Linked DNA regions of Homo sapiens: region 2 is reported to be linked to region 1. Evidence: microRNA targets listed by miRTarBase, many of them from high-throughput screens and not tested one by one. Region 1 holds a microRNA gene; the other region holds the end of a gene's coding sequence.

Region 1 (3,000 bases):
TGTTGTGATAGGTTTATATATGTATAAGGTCCATGGGGGCTCGGAAAGAGAGCAGGGGTTGTGAGGGCAGTAGGCAGGGAAGAAAGATCAGGGAGTAAGCATTTATTAATCCTCTTAATGTGCCAGGCACTAAGTTAGGCACATTACTAGGCTCTTAGTTTGCAGCAGTTCTGGGAGGTATGTACACAGTATTATTCTTACTTACCAGATGAGGAAACTGAGCTCAGACAGGTAAGTAATTTGCCCAAGCTCCCACAAGTAGTAACTGGGAGAAAGCCAGAAGTAAACCCAGCCAGATATACTTGACTACCCAACTCTGTCCAGTACTCCACCCTGGCACACCAAAGGATTGGTTCCACCAGTAGCTGAATGGAAGCTAGAATGGCAAGTAGGCATTAGCTAGGTGGAGGGGGTGGGGTCATTGTGTAGAGCATGTCAAGAGGTTTGAAATAGGTATGAGGAGTAGGTGAGATGAGGCTTAAGCTAAAATTTAATTGTTGTGTTTTAAAAATGTATAGTAAGATTGACTCATTTAGTGTACAGTTCTGTGAATTCAGATAATATGGAATTTAGTCCTGTAACCAGATACAATCAAGATACTGAATTGGTGTGTTACCTCCCTGAGTGCCCTCATTCTTCTTCTTTGTAGTCAGCTCCTCCCACCAGCCTTGACTTTTGGCAAACAGTGATGTGTTCTCTATCCTATATGTCATATAAATGGAATGTCATATAATGTCATATAAATGGAATCATAAAGGCTATATAGTATGTAGCCATTTGAGTCTAGTCTCTTTCACATAGCATAATGCGTTTTTGATTATGCCAAGTACTGTGATGTAAATGTTACTGTACAGTTTTGCTGTAGGTTTTTGTCCCTTTCTAAATGTGCTTATATCACTTCTAACCCTAGTTCCATGTAAACAGAATGTTTTTTGGCAAAGAAGTTATTAAGTTATAGCTTCAAATACCATGGAAGCCCTAAATAGTTTCCCGATAAGTGGCCAGGAGAAAGTACAATTGAAAAAAATCAGCTGTCTCTCCCAGTACCCTTTACCTCAGTTATCTCCTTGCTTTTGACATATAAAAATCACGTGGCCGGTTTACTACTGATTGTGACCTTTGCCATCTTAAAAGGGAAGAGAAAGAAAGCGAACAGCTGTACCATGAGGGAGTGGAAGGAATTAATGTTGTTCTTGGCCAGTTGGCACTGTTTTCTTGTGCCTTTCTGGGAAGGGAACAACAGGTGAGAAGGTTTGCTTTTTGTTTTTGTTAGTGTATAAATAAATAGGTTAACTTGTTTTTTATTTGTGTGGAAATGTGAGAGTCCATAGTGAAGTAACTTGCCCTAATAGCTCGTGATTTTTTAAAAGCTCATTAAATATATACACAAATTTATTTTAAGTGTCTTAATGAACTAAGCTACTCCAAGGTTGAGGATATTGTAGGCAATTACTGACGTAAAACTACAAATGTAAAAACCATCTTTGGTAAGTGTCACTTATATCCTATATCCCAACTGCTTTTTCTCCCTTTTATCCTAATTTTAAAATAAAAAAGAAAAGATAACGAAGAACTTTTTATAATAAAACCATGTCAGCCACAGAGAGATGGTGACTGTAAGCTAAGTGACCAGAATGTAGGTGCCTCTAAAAGTTGAGGGTGCACTGTTCTTTGAATTCTTGCCTGTTAACACTTTTCATAACATCTCTGTGAATCACACTCAAATATACTGTACAGTGCTATCACTGATACCTCTCACCTGCCACCAGGCTCTGCCCCTTCCCTACCAATACCTTGCACAAATTCATTGTCCTGAAGCACAGCTTTCTTGCTCAAGAACCAGTGTTGATTTTTCATTTCTTATTGAAACATACACAAATTGTTTACCTGAAATTGAAAACCTTCATGCTGTAGTTTTGCTTTGCCCATTCACATTTATTTCTCTTTGTTACTCATTCCCCTCTACGTTACTTTAGTGAAATCATCCTGTTTTTTAGTTGTCTAACAGCAGATTGAGTTCAGTTACCAATTTTTAAATTCAGTTCTAATTCCATTTCACATTGTAGTTGTTTTGACTAGTTTTTTTCTACTCTATTAAAAGCTCTAGTTGTTCTCTGCTCTCCTCACTTATCTGACTCTGAAATCTTCTAAATGGTACCCACTTTATTTAGAACGTTTTAGGGTCAAATAAGTACAGGTTGGAATCCTGAGTGCACCACTTAACTATTGAGGCTGACAGCCAGTGTACACCTGGGTCTTCACTTCCCCTGCCCCATGACTCTTCATTGTCTTAGTCCCTTCTATGGACCTCCCTATGATACCTCAGCTAAAAGTTTGAAGCAGAACCCAGCTCCTCTAGCACCAGCTAGTGTCTGTTCTGAGTGGCCGATGCTGGTACAAGTATGAGTTATTAAATATTTTTAATTTCACCCTGTTTATTATATGTATGATTTTAATTAAGTTACTTGTCCTTTCTGAGCCACTCCCAGATCTTTAAAATGGGGATAATAATACCTGTTTTGCAGGATGACTGTTCATTCATCAAATATTTGTTGAAGGCCTGCCTTGTTCTAGGCAATGACTTAAGTACTTGGGATATATTGGTGAACAAAACAGAAATGTCTGTGCCTTCTTGGATCATGTGTTTTAGAATTATGAGAATTAAATGAAAATAAATATTCAATATGGTGCCAGACACATAGAGGTGCCCACAGTGTCTTATCTCACTTTCTTCCTGCTTGCCATATCTTTTCCATCAGGGCCAAAGAGAATGGGAAGTGGGAAGAAATAAACTTCATATTTCATTTGTATAGCTGTGGAGAGTAGCAGGCCCTGGGTCCCTTTGGGGAGGTCATGCGAACTGGGCATGGCCTTCTGTCAAGAATTATTAGACCAGGCATGGTGGCTCATGCCTGTAATCCTAGCACTTTGGGAGGCTGAGGCAGGAGGATTGCTTGAGGCCAGGAGTTTGAGACCAGCATAGCCAACATGGTGAAACCC
Region 2 (3,000 bases), not on the chromosome of region 1:
GCGGCCGCTTCCTGCGCATCCGCCAAACGGTCAACCGCGGCGGTGGCGGCTTCGGCGCGGGCCCCGGGCCGGGCGGCTTGCAGAGCGGCCAGACCATCGCGCTGCCTGCGCAGGGCCTCATCGAGTTCCGCGACGCGCTGGCGAAGCTCATAGACGACTACGGAGGCGAGGACGACGAGCTGGCAGGCGGCCCGGGAGGCGGCGCCGGGGGCCCAGGGGGCGGCCTGTATGGAGAGCTCCCGGAGGGCACCTCCATCACCGTGGACTCCAAGCGCTTCTTCTTCGATGTGGGCTGCAACAAATACGGGGTGTTTCTGCGAGTGAGCGAGGTGAAGCCGTCCTACCGCAATGCCATCACCGTACCCTTCAAAGCCTGGGGCAAGTTCGGAGGCGCCTTTTGCCGGTATGCGGATGAGATGAAAGAAATCCAGGAACGACAGAGGGATAAGCTTTATGAGCGACGTGGTGGGGGCAGCGGCGGCGGCGAAGAGTCAGAGGGTGAGGAGGTGGATGAGGATTGAAACGGGCAGCTTCCCCTACAGGCCTCCACCCAACCACCATCCCCTTGGCTAGAGAATTCCCTTTCCTGCTCATCCCCAGTGAGCTAGTGGAGAGGGAGCAAGGGAGGCCGCAGAGGGAAAAAACAAAACGTAACACAGTTAAGAGAAATAATCGTAAGAGAACAGTGACGGACAACTTGAGAAAAGCAGTCAAGTTCCAAGGAACTGACAGCAACCTGCAAAGAGGAAAACAGCATCTCCTCACCTGCGTAAAATTGTCTCAGCTTCTGTTGTTTCTCAACTGAGGTTCGTAAACCCATCAGGATAATCCCTGGAGGGAATAGATCCTTGCACATCCAGGGCAAGAAACATGTCCAAGTTACCCAGACCATTGATAACAGTTGCATTTAGGTTGCACCTGGGTAATCTGGCATAAAAGATCTCTCTAGGCCTCACTGTTGCGGTGTCTATCCCTTCACCTCCATTGAAATCAGCATTTTGGATCTAGGTCTTCATGGAATCCTTGAGAAGAGAGGCCTTTACAATTACCCAGTTCTGAGGGTTCAGGTTCACGAAAAGAAATGCAACTTGGGATAATCATGAACAGGTTAAAGATAAGATTTCAAGAAGCCATCTAAGAATACAGAACCAAATTGGATCCATTTTTTTAAAAAAATGGTTTTGCATGGAACCTGGACCAAGGCAAATGTCTTTTCTTCGCAGAATTGTTTTCCAGGATGCCAGTGGATTCAGATAGCAATGCTTGGAGTAGAATCCGTTACTAAAATAGTTTCAAAGTTGACAAAAAATTTTCAAAGATAAAAGCAGTTTTACATTGGGGGTTGCTGAGGTAGGCACAAGAAAAAGTCAGGCATAAAGCACAAGGCAGACTGTTTGAGTGGATTGGTTGCTGCTCACTAAAGTTGTTCCCCTGATCTCTAAATATGGAGGTCATTACCAAGAAATGCTTTGGTATGAATGAGAGCCAGATCTCCACTGTGTGAGCCAGTGAATTATGGCTAATTCGGCTGTTACAGCCACTGGTTGGCTGGATTTTAAACCATAAAACTTGAAGATTACCTACAAAAGTAACAGTGTGGCTATAAGCCTGAGCTTTAATGGATATACATCCTCACAGAAAAGTTGGAAATAACCAAAACTGAAGTCTTAATTTACCTTCAGTTTAATCTGTGGATTTGTTCAAATACTAAAGATCCTCAGGTCCAGAATTCCAGCATCATTTATTCTTTTAAAATTTTTAAGAACTTGATCCATTGTATCAGTACCTCACAATCAGAGTTGGCAAATGATGGATGAGTGATTCAAGCAGTGCACCCGGTGGAAGCTGAAATCCATCTGTGAATGGAACTGAAGTGAACGTGAATATGCTGACTATATCCTGGAAGCATTTTTATACCATCTTGAAATTTCAACAAACTGGCTTTTGCCAGTTAATCCAGCTGTCTTTCAAGAATAAAAGTTGGGGTTTTCAAGGATCGCCTCTTCTATATTTTAAATGGATTTTCAGTAGAAATGATTTTTACTAATCAAGTTAATCCCACCCCATCAAAAGGTATTCCTAGAAATGTCATAGACCTAGGTAACTTTGAATTGAATGGGAGCTAACGTTCTTTCCAAAGTTTTCAGGTATTCTTTGTGTGACACCTTCTCAACCAGGAGGCAAGTAACCCCGCCTCCACAATCTTAGTATTTTTTTTAAACTGCATGCCTGCCCCTTATTTGAGCTGCCTTTTTAATTTATTGCATATCCTTTTTATTATCTTATTTTGGTATTATTCAATCTATACAATCTTTTTGTATTTATTGGGAAATGAGTAATATACAAAAAGGTTTTCATGTATTTGTGGCTGAGAGGGCGGGAAATAATTGTGTACATAAAATTAGGCTTTTTTAAAAAAATAGATTATGATGCAGAATATTGTTGATCTTAGATTAAAAAGTGGAAGAGCCACAAACATTGGTGCCCTTTTCAGACTATTTCTCTACTCTCATCATCCACAGTAGAATTTTTAAACAGATTTTTTTAAAGCTTTTCTTTTAAATTTTTCTCCGTTGCAAAGAATGTTTCCTAAATTGTATGGGAGCAATAGTATTTTTGATGTTTTAATGACATCCGTATACTTGTACTGTATTTTGTACTACAAGGCAGCTGTTTTTCAATAATGTCCTGCTGTATTTACCTACGTGTTTTGAGTGTCTATTTCTTTGCTGCGGAGAACAAATTCCTAAATAGTTTTAGTAAAGGAGCTGAGAAGCTAGCATTAGGTTTGCAGAAACTATTTAAGTTTCAACTCTGAGGCAGCAATGAAAATTTAAGTTGCAGCTATTAGTTGATTGCTGTAACTTTTTCATTTTCAAACCATGTACAATTCTTGTATAGACCAACTTGTTTTCTTGCTTCAGTGGTGGTTCTGTTGCTCAGCTGCAGTGAGCCAGTTCAATTTTGCAAAGGTGCAGTACCTCTCCTTTTTAAGGGGTT

What was found. Region 1 holds the annotated microRNA hsa-miR-5687 (UUAGAACGUUUUAGGGUCAAAU, at 2,168-2,189, shown strand). A microRNA usually pairs through its seed, bases 2 to 8, with sites in the 3' UTR of a target mRNA and lowers its output. Matches are read on the target gene's strand: a 7mer-m8 pairs with bases 2 to 8, a 7mer-A1 pairs with bases 2 to 7 and ends in A, and an 8mer does both.
Region 2: miRTarBase lists PURB as a target of hsa-miR-5687. The part of its 3' UTR that is shown has no 7-base or 8-base seed match.

The regions. Positions count from the first base shown.
Region 1 is chr5:55,508,048-55,511,047 of GRCh38, reverse strand. It overlaps MIR5687 (microRNA 5687), which reads left to right and starts at 2,122; the gene lies at 2,122-2,198. The region is part of intron 1 of PLPP1 (phospholipid phosphatase 1); the gene reads left to right.
Region 2 is chr7:44,881,931-44,884,930 of GRCh38, reverse strand. It overlaps PURB (purine rich element binding protein B), which reads left to right. Exons shown (of 1, transcript NM_033224.5): 1 at 1-3,000. The coding sequence ends at 521. Among named protein-coding and RNA genes, the nearest start is that of MIR4657, 1.6 kb to the right of the region's middle. RefSeq lists an enhancer at 1-329.